Homo sapiens: one gene and its partner. The protein of the gene in region 2 interacts with the protein of the main gene of each other region in a biochemical or structural test. Each region holds a gene or a part of one and is shown on either strand. Other genes may lie near its edges.

Region 1 (7,903 bases), on a different chromosome or scaffold from region 2:
GCATGACGACACAAGACTTGGCATGGCACAGGAGTTTGACAAAGTTTGTGAACTGAGCTGAGTGAGACTCAGCAGCCTCCTTCACCACAAAAGCTTTTTGGCAAAGAGCTCCAACGAGGCACCTAGTGCAGCTGCAGCTGCTGATGGGGGCCATCGAGTGACCACAGTCCTGGCCAGTGCTGTCAGAACTAAGTGGGAAAAATGCTCGGGCTATAGGGAGCCACAGGCTACATGGAAGGGGCCTTCTGTTTTGTTGCTTAGAGCTTCTCTCGTAAGGCTATCTTTGATGTATTACTTCAAGGACAAAAATGAGAACTTCTCACCATTTTGCCTTATATCTCATCATTTTAAAGATAAGACATATGCTTAGTGGAAGCATTCACTTTCTTAAAGGCCAATGTCTACCACAGATGGTCCCTTGAAGAGCATTAAAGAATTGGGATATGAGGATTGAGGGACATTAAAGATGTAGAATGTGTAGAAAATGGACCCTAGGAACCTTTCATCTTTGACCTCTAAATTGGGGCAAATTTCCATCCCAGGAACCAATAATTAAATCAACAAACAGCTGAATGAATTTAAGAGAATTTAGGAGACGTTAAGTACCTTCCAGCATTGCTAAACGCTGTGCAGGCTACAGAGTTATGCAGATATGAATGTTGCCCCTCCACTACTTATGATCTGATGGAGGGAGATTAAGCTCAGGGGATACCTGGGGTGGGGGAGCTTGTGCTCACCTCCCAGAGAGAACTTACCATTCTGAAATGTTCCCCACTCATCCAACTGGGTTTTTTTTTGTTTGTTTGTTTGTTTGCTTTTTTATCTCTGTGCAGTGCCTTATATTTGTCCATGAAAGACACTGAAAAAGGAATAAAAGAACTGAATCTAGAGAAGGACAAGAAGATTTTTAATCACTGCTTCACAGGTAAAAGCACTTGCAGGCCTGAAATAGGGCGACTGGGAAGGCGATATGGAGTCCTCCTTCGGCCTCGTCTGTGAGGTGGGGGTATGAAGTATGGGGGTTGGAAGGGGTCCCAGAATGCAGCCTGGTGAGCCTGAGGATGAAGCTCCTACAGAGTGAAAATAGAAAGAAGTTTGTTGTTCAAGCTAACGATTTTGTTCAAGCTTTATTTGTTCAAGTTAACATTTGTTCAAGCTAACGTTCCAATCAAAGGATTTTTTTTCTCAATAAATGGCATTATGTTGAGACTTGCTAGAAATAGACACAGAATTGGATAAGATGCAACCCTTACTACAATAAACAGGGATTAAGGCATACAATGTAAGTTTTAAATGACAATATTAGGGCTATCAGAGGCTGCACAGGGTCAGGTATTAAGTGTTATGAGTTTAGGTAGTATGGTGTAGTGGTTAAAAACATGTCCTTTAGAGCCAGACCACCTTGGTTCAAATTCTGGCTCTGCAACTTACTAGTTATAAAACCTTGGCTCAATAACTTAGCCTCTCTGTGCTTCACTTTCTCTGTCTATTTAGTGGGGATAATCACAGTGCACCTACCTCATAGGCTTGCCATTATGTGTGTAGAGTAGTGCCTGGCACACACTCAGTGCTATATGGTGCAAGCTCAAGTGGTTATTGTGTTTTAAGTGGTCACATGTCTGTACAACCAATTCCAGGGGTTCAAAAAAAGAGAAAGAACTCAGGGGTTGATGGGATGAATAGGAGGTGGTACCCAAATTTGACCCTGAAAGATGGGTAGAATTTCATTAAATATTTACAGGAGGATTTTTAATGAGGAGCCAGGGCAGAGGATGAGCAGAGGATGGGCCAGGGCAGAGGATGAGCAGAGGATGGGCCAGGGCAGAGGATGAGCAGAGGATGGGCAAAGGATGGTGAGGACAAAGTTATGAGGCAGACATGTGCAGAATATGCATCTAGAAAAAGAAACTGACCAGCCTAGTAGGGCTGACGGTTCATCAGGGGGAGCAAAATGGGATGTACAATTTGGTACTAAGTTTGTCAGATACCAGGCCTGGCTTTCTTATGGTGACAGGAGAGATCAAAGGAAGAAAACTCTGAGCTGATACAGCAAATGTGGAATCTAAGAGGATGTGCCATCAACAGATAATCCATGAAATTGGTCCAGGTCAGGATCAGCAAGGCTAAGGGGAAAAGGCTTTGATCACTGACGATGAGATAGTCCCCCGTGGGAATAAGCCTCAGAGTCAAGGCAGCAGCCCAGCATCAGACAAGGCAGGGCTGAGATTTGGGATCAAGACACCAAGCTGTGGGTGGTGGTATGAGAAAGTGACAAGAACAAGGGAAGTTCCCAACTCTATCAGGACCGAGGTCACTGCAACAGCCTTGGGCAAAGGGAACAGGAGGGCATTTCAATGTAGACTTGGGCACCCAATCCAGGTCAGACTGATTTCCACTGTAATGTGTTACTGAGTCCCAGACTATTGGGCTGGTTTTTTTCTTCTTGTTCTCCTTCTCCTTCTCCTTCTCCTTCTCCTTCTCCTTCTCCTTCTCCTCCTTCTTCCTCTTGTTCTTATTCTTCTTTTCTCCTTTTTCCTCTTCCTCTTCTTTTTATTTGAGACGGAGTTTCACTTTTGTTGTTCAGGCTCACTGCAACCTCTGCCGCCCGGGTTCAAGCGTGATTCTCGTGCCTCAGCCTCCTGAGGAGCTGGGATTACAGATGTGCACCACCATGCCTGGCTAATTTTTGTATTTTTAGTAGATTCGGGGTTTCACCATGTTGGCCAGACTGGTCTCAAACTTCCAACCTCAGGTGATCTGCCTGCCTTGGCCTCTCAAAGTGGCCTGTAATCCCTAAGATTACAGGTGGGCTAGTACTTCTTAAATCCTTCTTGTTGAAGGCCAGGGTGGGTTTTGGACATTTCTATGGGTAGAGCCTTCATGGGGGAGTCAGGTGGCCTCGGCTGGGAGATGAAGGCTGTAGCAGAGACTGGGACCCAGCAGTACTGACACATGATGGAAGACCTTAAATGTCCGATGACAGGCAGACTAGACCAAACTTGTCTTTCAAGCTTCAGCATGCCTCACTGAGTGAGCGTGGATGCAAGGGTTAGAACACTTAAAAGTGACAGCCCAGAGCAGTTGTAACTTTGGCCTAAGATCACTCAGATTCCCTGAGCCTTAATTTTCTTATCCTTAAAATGAGGACTGCAATTACCACCCTGCCTCTTTCACAGGCTGCTATGAAGATAAAAAGAAGAAATGCAGTGTCACTTAGTTTATCTTTGTAGAGAAAGAAAAGTGAGCAAAAGCCTTTCATACATGAAATTCATGGAAGGCTCGCTATCCAACTGCTGTCACTCCTGTTTTGAGGGTGGCATCCCTACTGCTTTTGCCCGGATGACAGGACAGGCAGGCTGTCATGTTGACTCCCTTGTTGGCTACATTTGTAAGGAACACACTGCTTTTTATTTTTATCTTTTTTAATTGACACATAATAGTACGTATTTATGGGGCACAATTAATGTTCTGATACACATATACATTGTGCAGTGATCAAATCGTGGTAACTAGTGTATCCATCACCTCAAATATCTATCTTTTTTTGTTGTAAGAACAAACATGCTGTTTTTAATACAAAGCTTCATTGTAACCTGCTAATAATCCAATGTATGGGTCAATTTCATTTTCTTCTCTTTGCAATCATCTCTTGACCAGAAGATTGCTTAAATGACTTCTCAAGGTCCCTGCTAGACTCTGCAAAGTCATGACAATCAGTGCAGGTGATGTCATCAAATTTTAATTTAGGACATATATCCATCACATTATTTCCTATTTAAAAACTTAAAATGATTTCCCATTAGCCAAATTTCTTACTGTGCCATCAAAGCTCTCCCCACCCACCCTTCACCTCCCTCCTCCTCTTATTTCCTTTTGCCTTCTTTCCACCAACTCCTCCCCTGCCCCATGGGGCTGCTTTATGCCTGAGTGCATCTGTTCACACTGCTGCCCCCTCAGCTTGTGCTGGTTCCTCTGCATCCTGCTTCATATGCTTGGCAAACGCCTACTCATATTTTAAGCCTCTGCCCAGTGTCACTTCCTCTATGAATCTTTTCCTGATGGTGATGCACAGCCCTCTTCTCTCACCTCCTTCACCTCTTTCACACCTTCAGATTTGACCCAGTAGTCTCGCAACTGACTTATAGCAGAGCACTTGTTACAAGACTTATTTATTACACCCATCATGCCCTTTTACACTCCTTGAGGGAATTTCTCCAACACCCAGTAGAGTACCTAGCATCGAGTAGGTGCTCAGTAAATGTTTGTTCATCAATGGGATAAGTGAGTGGGTTAGTAAAACCTATTTCTTTGATGCATGTGTTGCTTTTTTTTAAGACAAAGACTTTATTTTTTTATTTTTAAAGTTATTATTTTTTTATTTTATTTTTGTTTTTATTTATTTATTTTTTATTATACTTTAAGTTTTAGGGTACATATTTTTTGAGATGGAGTCTTGTTATGTTGCCTGGGCTGGTCTTGAACTCCTGGGCTCAACTATCCTACTGCCTCAGCTTCCAGAGTAGCTGGGACAACAGGTGTGCCACCATACCTGGTCATGTGTTTCTTCTTAAGCAGCATGTAGATGTTCTTAAAAACCCTTTACATAGTTTTTTGTTTGTTTGTTTGTTTCTAGTGGGTATCTATCCCACTTATTTTGTTTTCTCTTTCTTGAAATAACAGGGGAGACGAGACAAGTCAGACCTGTGGGTGAGCTGGAGTCAGTTCAGGGGTGATTGTCAGGGGCTTGTTCTTCGGTAAGGAGAGTTAACCTTCCCTGTGCTGGTCCCATCTAGGTAACTGCGTCATTGATTGGCTGGTATCCAACCAGTCTGTTAGGAATCGCCAGGAAGGCCTCATGATTGCTTCATCGCTGCTCAATGAGGGGTATCTGCAGCCTGCTGGAGACATGTCCAAGAGTGCAGTGGATGGAACTGCTGAAAACCCTTTCCTGGACAACCCTGATGCCTTCTACTACTTTGTAAGAAAAGCTCCCCATCTCTTCTTCCTGTAAGGGAGGCTGCCCTGAGCAGATTCTAGATTGATTTCAGTTCATAGACATCTATAGAGCGCTGTTAGGCAGCGGGTAGGGAGGTCAGCCAGGAAGAACAAGGGAATACCTGAAGCTCCCAGGCCCATTTAGAGCTTCTGTTATACCAGCATTTCCCAACTCAACAGCTGCCCTCTCTACAACACTCGCCCTGTCCAAGTGAATTTGTTATTATAAAAGGATACTACTGTTTACTTGAAAAAAAATTTTTAAAGGACATTTTAAAGTTTATTGTTTCCTATTTACTTATTATTATTTTTTATTTATTTAGATGTAGTCTTGCTCTGTCACCCAGGCTGGAGTGCAGTGGTGTCATCTCGGCTCACTGCAACCTCCGCCTCCCGGGTTCAAGCGATTTTCCTGTCTCAGCTTCCCGAGTAGCTAGGATTACAGGCATGCGCCACCACACTCAGCTAATTTTCGTATTTTTAGTAAAGACAGCGTTTCACCATGTTGGCCAGGCTGGTCTCGAACTCCTGACCTCAAGTGATCCACCTGCCTCTGCCTCCCAACTATCTATTCTTATTCTAAGCAATAATTCATTTATAAAACTGTCTTAGACCCTAGTCCATGGCAAGCATTCTCTAAGACAAGAAGATACAGCCACGTAGACAAGCGTACTGGAGGGACAGGCAAAAATCCTGCCCTACTGCAGCTTCCTTTCCAGACAGGAGTCTATAAATCACAGGTTTGATGTATTAAGTGCATTATTCCAAATGTATGTTAAAACACATGACTCTTAATACAAAATGTGTCCACAGATGTCACTTCCTGCAGTCATCTTGTGTACCTCCCACAGTATGCTTACCCACGATTGGGAAACACTATATTATACAATGTGAACCTGTTCTTAGGCCATGTGAGCAATGGTGGATTTCTTGGGGGATTTTGGCAGTTTTGTTTCTATCTTGGATCAGAGCACAGAATTTAGGAAGTTACCTAAGAGAACCATTCTTCTTATAAACATGAAGTGAACACCCTAGAGGGTTTCATTTCACTTTAGGGGAAGTTCCACAGTCTGTTTTTTTTTTTTCTTCAGTCCTTTGATCTGGTCGTTTATAGCCATTTCAATGCAGGATTCTAAAAATACCCATCACAGTGGCTCCTCTTCCTCGGTCTGATTCATCATCTACTTTTGCTGAGCAAGTCCCACTTCCCTCATAACCTCAGGGGAAGAGGCTGGACACATGCTGTCACTTTTCTCCAAGAGGGGGCTCAGTGGCAAATGTTGAGCTGGTGATAGTATTGCCAATGAGAAATTAGCCTGCCCTGCTTTCAAGGATGTGACCATGATATCCCAAGAGAAGGAAGGCTTTGAAGGCAGACATGTGCCTGGTTAGGAAGATGGAGCTAAAGTTAGGATACAGCTTGGGAGACCCTCCAGAATAAAAGGATATTGACAAGATCACACCTGAGTGGAGACAAGAAAGGAACAGCCCCGGAAGCAAGTAAAAGGAGGAGGAGAAACTCGCTCATCAAGGACCTTTGAAGTTCAGATTGGGATGTACACAGGAATGGAGGAAAAAGGAGGAGGCTGCCCTCATGGCTGGAGGGGAGGGGGAATGGAGATGGCACAAGTTGCAATGTGCCTAAGACTGGTGATGTTAGCTTGCTGTTTGATTTTCCAACAGCCAGACAGTGGGTTCTTCTGTGAAGAGAATTCCAGTGATGATGATGTGATTCTGAAAGAAGAATTCAGAGGGGTCATTATCAAGCAGGGATGTTTACTGAAGCAGGTGAGTGGCCACAACTGCTCCCATCTAGCCTTTTCCCTTTACAAGGTCCTTTTTGTTTCTAAGTTACCCAGTGACTTTTGGTTTGTTTGGTTAATAGTCAAGCAGAAAATGAAACCCACAAAGTGAAAGATAGATGAGTAGCTCTTTAGATATCAAAGTGGCTTTAGATCAGGAAGATTGAGTTTGACAGGGCAGAAGATGTCCCTAAAAGTAGGAAAATGCCTCTTTTATCAATATCATAGGAAAAAAAAAGGTGTTTCAAGAAAAATATGGCCGGAGGAGATAAATTGTCTAAGAGATGCCATCCAAAAGACAAAGCTGTCTCATGGTAAAAGTACTTCCATTTTACCTGTCCCTCCTCCCTTCAAAGCAACCAGGAAAACAGGAACAGGCTACACCCAGAAGAGGAACAGAGTACACCACTGAGAGCAAAGAAGAGTCATTCCAGTCTGTGCTTAGGGCATGACAAGACCAAAACCTGGGCATGCAGAGGCCAGTTCACAGGAACAGCAGGCAAAAGTCAAATGCAGATTGAGGGCATGGACAGAGTCCTGGGGGGATGTCCAGGTGTCCACAGGTACAGGCCACCATCAGTCTTGGAGGCAAGGGCTGGAGAGTGCTGAGGAGCTCTAGTCGGTTACCAGGTGCCAAGGCATATGATGCCAAGAGGTAAGAGATGGACAGGGGCCAAGATGACTGAGGAAGCCAGGACCAGTACCTGGTGGAGGAAGTCGCAGGAAGACATGAGAATATTCAGGGGGAAGCTAGTTGATACTTGCACAAGGCATCTTAGAGGCCAAGGCTGCTTTGCAGGACCAAGGTCTTGCCTTCCTGGCTGCACTGTGAGCTGCCTTAAAAGTGCTGCTCAGTATATAATGGAGAGAATCTGTTGCCATCAGGAGATTTCCATGTACTGTCTATAGGCTCCACGGGACTGGGGGATCTGATTTATTTCATGTTAGGACCCTGAATGTCCATCTTAGTGATTAATGGAATGGGCAAGGAGGGAAGAACCAGAGAAGAGCCCATATTTACATTTATAAAGAGGGACTCTGGGCTGGGATAGCTGAAAGGAGGTATAGGTATGGATTTTGAGTTTCACAGGGGGAAGTGGGACATT
Region 2 (8,191 bases):
GCTGTGTGTCGGCGTCCTCCCAGGCTGTGAGCAGGCGGCGGAGTGCCTGGCTCCTACACACGTGAACACACATGCATACACAGGCACATGTGTACACACACATGCTCCGGCACACGCGTGCTGGTACGTGCTCCCGCACACGTATGCACACGTGTGCACCCTTGCTGGGGTTGTGCCTGGGTGTTGCTAATGGCTGCCTTCCTGGTGAGATTGTGACCAGTTGATCTTGAGGCTCCCAGAGGCTCTGCAGTAAACACGCATAACATTTTTTTAACTAGAAATAAGGCCTCTAGATGATTGAAGAGGCTTCTGAGAAATCTGGACTCTTTTCTATGGAATTTACAGTAATGGGAAAATGAAAAGCACTGGAAATATAAATAACTGGAAGCACAAAGGCGACGTGACTCCTAGAATCTGTCCAGAACCCATGGTCGCAGACATGGGGCCCCGTCTCTGCCAGACCCTGGTGGCTCCCAGGCTGTGGGGGCGGTGGAGGGGGTGGTGCCACGTGTGGCTCTGTGGACGGCTCCGACGACCCTGACAGTGTGCTTCTCTCCCTCCAGGTCGTGCACACACACAAGCCGCACTTCATGGCCTTGCACTGTCAGGAGTTTGGAGGGAAGAACTACGAGGCCTCCATGTCCCACGTGGACAAGTTCGTCAAGTAAGTCTAGGGGCAGGTGCTGGTGCATGTCCACTTCCCAGGGGTGTGGGGTGCCGGCGGGGGTCTTTTCATGGTACTATGATCACCAGCCTCACCATTCGGGACTCACCTGGGGGTCATCTTGGCTGAGTCTCAGTTTTCCAAAGAGAGGAGTGGCCCAGACGTGTGGCCACGAGCCTCCTTGGGGCGGCGACAGAAGGCCACGGAGTGACAGCCTGCTGCCTCCACACGGCGAGGGTCTGTGCTCTCGGGCCAGGGGACGTGAGCCCCAGATACCAGTGGAGCCGTCTCCGTGTGTGTGTGTCTGAGGCCTGGGCCTGTGGTGGCCGGGGTTCACATCCCACTGCGCAGTCTGTCTCAAGGAGGTCGGCAGGGAGCGTCTATCCTCCTTGGGGGCGAAATCTCCATCGTTTAGGAGGAAGGTGCCCCACGTGTATTCCCACTGTACATGCCCTGAGGCTTCTGACAGGGCCGGCCCAACTGGGTCCTGCCTGGGAAGAGGGGGCGCCCGGACCTGGGGCATCCAGGAGTGGACAGGAGCAGGCAGGGGCAGGCAGGCTTGTGTTCAGACATGGGGCCTCCTATAGGCTGTTGCTAATAGTGGCTGCTGTATTTTCCCGAGGCCGCAGCCGTGAAGCCCGCCCTCTGTGTCCCCTACAGTGTGGCCTTGGCACATTCCCATGTTGGGGGCTCGTCTCCACCTCCAGACCCTGGGCAAGCCCTGGCTTCTTCACAGCATGAGGGCTTCTGGGACCAGCCCCCAACATCGCAGAGCTTCACAAAGCTGCCACACTCTGTGGGCCGACGCCGCTGCCACGCTCTGTGGGCCGACGCCGCTGCCACACACTGTGGGCCGACGCTGCTGCCACGCTCTGTGGGTTGACGCTGCTGCCATGCTCTGTGGGTCGATGCAGCCACCCGGAGTCGGGACCTGTGGGCAGAGCCGTCGAGCCCTCCCGGCCTGGTGCCAGTGTGAGTGTGAGCGAGGCTTCAGGCGATCCCAGCCGCTGCATCCTTGCTGTGACATAAGCCCTCCGTGTTGAACTCCCAGCGCAGGGTCCTCGAGCAGAGCAAAGTGGTTTCAGCTGCTAAAAAAAACTGCCACAACTTCCCAAAATAATCTGTAATTTAAGGCATTTTTTTTTTCTTTTTTTTTTTTTGTTTTGAGACGGAGTCTCGCTCTGTTGCCCAGGCTGGAGTGCAGTGGCGTGATCTGAGCTCACTGCAAGCACCGCCTCCTGGATTCATGCCATTCTTCTGCCTCAGCCTCCCGAGTAGCTGGGACTACAGGTGCCCACCACCACACCCAGCTAATTTTTTTGTGTTTTTTTAGTAGAGATGGGGTGTCACCATGTTAGCCAGGATGGCCTCAATCTCCTGACCTTGTGATCTGCCTGCCTTGGCTTCCCAAAGTGCTGGGATTACAGGCATGAACCACCATGCCTGGCCAGTTTAAGGCAGTTTTAATCAAAATCTTAGCGGCATTTTTCCTAACACTCAACAAACTAATACTAAAATTGCCATATAAGAGCAAAGGGTCAAGAATAGTTAAAAGAATCCTGAAGGAAAACAAAGTGGGTTCTCACCCAGCTCGACCCCAAGGCTCATTCCGAAGAAGCAGTGGGGCAGGTGGCATGACGCAGGCCCGGAGAGGAGAGCGGATCGAGGCAGGTGCGCAGCCCAGAGAGTGGAGAGCGGAGTCGAGGCCCCACCCAGACCCTCGCGGCTGCCTTGGAGGAGGGTGGGTGGGGACATGGGCTGGGGCACGGCATCATTGGTGTCCTGTTGGGAAAAATGAAATTGGATCCCTGCTTTGTGTCATAAGCAGCCACTTCTCACTCACCCTACATAAGATGAATTTCAGTTGTATTAATTATATAAATGTAAAAGGCAACATTAAAAATTTCAGTCTAAAATATAGGAGAAAATATAGTTTTGGGATGAGAGATTTCTTTTAAAATGTGCAGGAAGTGCAGCCTACAGAATGGAAGGCTGAAAAATGTGGCCATGTTTGAACTAAGCATTTGCTTATGAAAAGGCACTCAAAATGAAGTCACTCAAAATGAAGTCACTCAAAACAAAATCAAAATTCAGCCACTTCGGGAAAAGATATCTGCAGCACACCTTACTGACAAAAACGAGTGTTTAAATATATGAAGAACTCAGTAAGTCGGTAAGAGAAGGAAAGCAGCCCCTGTTGGGAAGCACCTTCCAGAGGAGAGAAAGTGGGGGTGCACCCTGAGCACGGAGGACGCCGCCCTCACAGCAGGCGGGGACACCGCAGGCCGGACGGGAACGATGCCGCCGTGTTTGGTGTGAGAGCTTCACAGTGGAGTGTGGCCCCCACGGCCTTGTGCCCCCGCGATGCCGTGTGTGTTTCCTTCCTCCGCGCTTTATGCCTAATGTACAGCGTTATGATTTTTGCTTTAAACAATTTTCTTTTTAAAAGATTAAGACGTGAGAGAAACGCCCTTGGTGTGGACCAGTTCACTGGCTTTCAGTGCCCTCCGCCCTTTTGTGTGGATTCTGCTTTTTATCTGGCACCCTTCTCTCTCTGCCTGAAGAACGTTCTTTAACATTTATTTTAGCACAAGTCAGCTGCTCATGAATTTTCTCAGCTTTTGTTTATCTGAAAAAGGTCTTTGTCCTCATTTTTGAAAGCTGTTTTTGTTGTAAATAGAATTCTAGCTTGTCAATTTTTTTTCCTCTCACTACTTTAATGATATCGCCCCATTGTCTTCTGTATTGCATTGTTGCTGGCGAGAATCTCGCCATTGTTCTCTCTTAATTTTCTTGTATATAATGTGCCCTTTCCTCCACTGCTAGGTTTTGTCTTTATAGCTGGTTTGCAGCAACCTGATTATGTTGTACTTTGCTTTGATGTTCTTTATGTTTATCTTGCTTGGGGCCGTTTGAGCATTTGCAGTCTGTGGGTTTATCGTTTTAATCAAATTTGGGGAAAATTTGTCCTTGTCCATTATTTCTTTAAATACTATTTTTCTTTTCCTTCCCTTCTCTTTTGTTCTTAGGCTCCAGTTACCTGATGTTAGATTGCCTGGTTCTGCCCCACAGGGCCCTAAAGCTCTTCTGATTGTTTTCAGCTCATTTTCCCTGTGTTTCGGTTTGGATCGCCTCTGTTGCTGTATTTTTAAGTGGCTGGGCTCTTTTCTGTTGCAGATTTTGATCTTCTCTTAGGTCCATGCAGTCAGTTCGTTTTATTTCTGACATTGTGTTTGTCCACTCCTTCCAGAAGCCTCACGTGTGCTTTCCCTGTCCTCGCTTTTCCTTCCGTCTGTGCGTTCCTTTCGCTGTCTGGTCACAGTTGCAATGACTGTTCCCAGTTGCTTTCAGCTCACTCCGTCATTTTTGCCTCTTCCGGGTCTGTTTCTGTTGACGGCTTCTTCGTAGGATGACGGGACACATTCACGTGGTGTTGCTGCTTCTCATATCAAGTTATTTTCCGTAGGATGGCAGACATTGCGAATGTTACGTTGTTTAGTGTTTGAGCCCTGTTTTCTTCCTTTAAAGCGTGTTGAAGGTTGTGTTTACCAACAGTTAAGCCACATGGGGATCAGTGTGGGTCTGTCAAGGCATTCTTTGCCTTGCCCTTCTCTACTGGTGCAGTTTTATTTTCTTCAATGTGGACCCCCCTTCTTCCTGACACATGGACTGGCTGGATCACAGGGTGCTGGTCTCCTCTCTCCCCACTGGCTTGAATAAGCATGCGTGGGTAGGGGGATGATGGACTGTCTCTGTGGAGGGGCCAGGCAGACGGGGCCTCGTCCTCCGTTCATGGGCTCCAGGGGTGTGCGGTGGCCTCCTGTGCAGCCATGCTTTGCGGAGATGGTGGTGAGCTTGTCTCCTTAAGGCCTTCCTGATGATAAAATGTGACCAGTAGGATGAACGGTCGGGGACAATGGCGTGTCCAGAGGTCCTTTCCCTCCTGTGTGGTTGCAAGGCCGTGGCAACTCAACCACCATTCTCGCTGCCACTTCTGGGAGGAGCAGATGGGGACAGAACTACCTGGGCCCTGGGGTGCATGTGCCCCAACCTGTGTGTGCTGGTGGCTACTGGGGGTCCAATTTCTCTCTTAAGACCAAGCGTGAGCTATCAGGAGAGCCCCCAGAGCTTGGAGTTGCGCTTCCCTGGCATGAGACCTTGGGTGAGTTCTCAATGTCTCCATCCCTGGGATGCCTCAGACCCCGGCATCTCACAGGCTGCGTGGAGACCAGAGCCTGTGGGAGCTTGAGCTCTGCACATGCTGAGAGCTGAACGTGAGGCCAGCTCCTGCGGTGGCTGCCGCCATTCCCTGCCCTCTGCCTGTCACGGGTGGATGGTCTCACGGTGATGTACCTATGTGCTGGAGCCCCTCTTATACCTTGTGGTCATCTCATGAGGTGCAAGGCGTCTGTGTGGCTTTTCCTCAGGAACCTACTTTCTTCCTTCCAGAGAACTATTGTCGAGTGATGCGATGAAAGAATATAACAGGGCTCGAGTCTACCTGGATGAAAACTACAAATCCCAGGAGCACTTCACGGTGAGTCCCTCCCGCTGCCTGGTGCAGGGGTCAGACAGGCTGGCCTTGGCAGAAGCCAGCCCTTCTCCTGTGTAAATGGAGAGAGGTCGGGGTGCTCCCTGCCTGAAGCCTCACTCACGCTGCCCTGCCTGGCACTCCCGCAGCCTGCTTGGTGGTCTGCTCGTGGTCTGAGCCCATGGCTGGCCTGGCAGGGAAGGTGGCCCAGCACGCACAGGGTCTTGGGGCTCCAGACCAAGCCCAAGAGGGAATTGGGGAGTGACAGGTGGGGAGAGGCCCAGGGCCTCAGCGTGCATGAAAATAAGAGGGAGTCCGGGGCTCCAGGCGTGTAGATGAGAGGTTGGACAGCAGCCGGTATTGCTTCAAGAGCCACCGTCGCCAGCCCTGCTCCCATGCTGGGTCCGTCCCTTCCTGATCCCTGAGTGTGCAGGGCTGGGGCGGTGTCCTGCCTCGGAGAGAGGCTGTTCCTCAGGGTGAGCACAGGGGGAGTGGGACAGAGCCTTCCACAGGGCTGGGAAAGACCTGTCCCTCCTCTGCGGTCCTCTGTCAGGTGGACACATGAGAGGGTGGCCCTGGTGGACGTGGCAGCCACAGAGATACAGGCACCAGGTGTCTGGGAAGGGGCAGGAAGCTCCTCAGAGGAGGGGACACTCTGCAGGTCGTGAATAACTTGCTGTTGGTTCAGAGACCCACGTCTTAAATCCCGTCTTTATGCCCTGGGTCCCCCGGCCTGGATCCATCTCCCCCGTCTCTGGGGAGGCCCTGGGTCCCCCGGCCTGGGTCCATCTCCCCCGTCTCTGGGGAGGCCCTGGGTCCCCCGGCCTGGATCCATCTCCCCCGTCTCTGGGGAGGCCCTGGGTCCCCCGGCCTGGGTCCATCTCCCCCGTCTCTGGGGAGGCCCTGGGTCCCCCGGCCTGGGTCCATCTCCCCCGTCTCTGGGGAGGCCCTGGGTCCCCCGGCTTGGGTCCATCTCCCCCATCTCTGGGGAGGCCCTGGGTCCCCCGGCCTGGTTCCATCTCCCCCGTCTCTGGAGAGGCCCTGCATCCTTCTCCCCCATCTCTGGCCTTCTGTCCCCAGCATCAGCGCCCACTAGCCGTCATTGCGCCGTCACGTGACAGGCCCTTGTTAATCTGCCCTCTCCCAGGTGGGCCCCCGTAGGCTGCAGTGCTGAGGGTCTCGCTCTCCAGTGCCCCCCTGCCCTGCAGGTGGGACTCTCATTGCTGTTTGGGTTCAAGGGCCATCTCACTTGTTTGGGCATCCAGTGCCAGTTGATCAATGTCCTTGTCCCTGAGATGGTCACACAGCTGTCATGCGTGGTCCCCACCAGTAGTGGAGTCTGTACAATCCCGGGAATCCCCCGTTCGGTCTCCGACCCTCGCCCTGTCAAGCAGCTGCCCACACACAAGCGGCCTCTCCTCACGCTCTGTGGGGCACACGGGGACCACGGGGCCCCCACTCACACCAGAGCCAAGGCCCTCACCCCTGTGCTCAGGATGTAGCTCCTCCTGTCAGCCTTCCTCCCTCTCCCCCTTGGTCCCTCCTCCCTCTCCCCCTTGGTCCCTCCTCCCTACCAGCTTCTTTCTCTCAGCTCTGCCATCCTTTCCATAAAATGGCAGCTTCCTTGACCCTCTCACTCTCCTCTGCCATGACCCAACGTAATGTGTTTCCCAAGTAGGGGCTTATTCAGATGAAAAAGAAAAACACCACTGGGGGAGCAGCAAATTAGACATTGCAGAAGAAAAGAGAAGGTGACTGAACTTGAAGACAGCCACAAAATTAAAGTGAAACAGAGAGAAGGACTGAAAAGTGGATAGAAATCACTGTGAAATACCAGGTGTCCTAACACGTGTGGCTGCAGCCCCAGGAGGAGCGGGGAAAGGAGGCAGACAGGGTGATGCTTACAGATGTCATGGCTCAGATTTCTTCATCAGTCCATGAAACTTACAGAAAGATCCAAATACTGCAACAAGCTTCAAGCCGAATAAACATACCAACGCAGGCCAAGGTCCGATTGCTGAAAGCAAGTTACATGAAGGCCCTTCCTTGCCACCCATCATCCTCGGAAGAGTGGGGCTCTGCTCCCCGTCTCTGCGTGCTGCCCTGCCATGGGAGCCTCATCTGTGCCAGTCGCCAGCTACCTCTTCCTCATGGGGACCATCGCTCAGCTCTTTCCAGCTTCCTTTAGATATAAAGACACAGGTATTTTAAAAGTGAAGGGACGGAGGAGGATGTACCTTGTAAAACAGTCGTTAGAAGAAAGTAGGAGTGGCTGTCTGCATGTCAGGGTGCCCTCAGAACGAGCGTGTTGTCGGGGCTGAGAGCGGTCATTTCACGATGATAAGGGGTCAGCTTTTTGGGAGGACATAGCGGTCGTGAACGTGCGCCCCTAATATCAGAGCTCACTTAGACGCGAAACCGACAGGGCTGGGTGGAGACGGGAGGCTCTGCACCGCAGGAGGACCCCACAGTCCCCTCCTGCTGGCCGATGTGCAGGTGGGCGGAGGGGCAGTGCCCGCCACCCGCACCCTTGGCATCTGAGGCTCTCCAGCCAGAGCAGTGGTGGACGCAGCCACCGACAGAAGGCACCCGCGTGCTGGGCCCTGGCCAGAGCAGGCCTCTCCGTCTGTCCGAGCCTGGCTGGGATACCTGAGAGCGAGGCACACATGGGCTGGCGGAGGGGCAGCCGTCATGCTGTAGTTCTGTTTCCACCAAAACGTTTTTCCACATGAGGGCGAAAGCCTCAGCAAAACCTCCTTCAGGCTCCCGAGGGCCGCGGCTGCCTCCACACCTGGCTACCTTCTTCAGGCCCCCGAGGGCTGCGGCTGCCTCCACACCTGGCTTTCAGGGTTTTCCAGGTGGGTCCGGAGCGGCCTGTGCTTAAGGGCTCAGGTCCACCCGAGACTCTGCCTGGCGTGCGTATCTGGGCATCTGCACCTGGCTGCCGGGCACAGGCCGTGCCAGGCCTGTACGAGCTCTGGGGTTGTTCTCCCTTC

Evidence for each region. Proteins that work in one complex are often made in the same cells at the same time.
Region 1: the proteins of INPP5A (region 2) and PLEK form a complex in vitro, tested with the Homo sapiens proteins (one study listed by IntAct).

What each region holds. Positions count from the first base shown.
Region 1 is NC_000002.12:68,381,709-68,389,611, forward strand, and holds part of PLEK (pleckstrin), read left to right. Parts: intron 1-833; coding exon 834-925; intron 926-4,793; coding exon 4,794-4,978; intron 4,979-6,678; coding exon 6,679-6,783; intron 6,784-7,903. UniProt on the Homo sapiens protein: Major protein kinase C substrate of platelets.
Region 2 is NC_000010.11:132,645,305-132,653,495, forward strand, and holds part of INPP5A (inositol polyphosphate-5-phosphatase A), read left to right. Parts: intron 1-563; coding exon 564-664; intron 665-5,113; coding exon 5,114-5,201; intron 5,202-8,191. UniProt on the Homo sapiens protein: Phosphatase that specifically hydrolyzes the 5-phosphate of inositol 1,4,5-trisphosphate to inositol 1,4-bisphosphate, and inositol 1,3,4,5-tetrasphosphate to inositol 1,3,4-trisphosphate. Plays a crucial role in the survival of cerebellar Purkinje cells.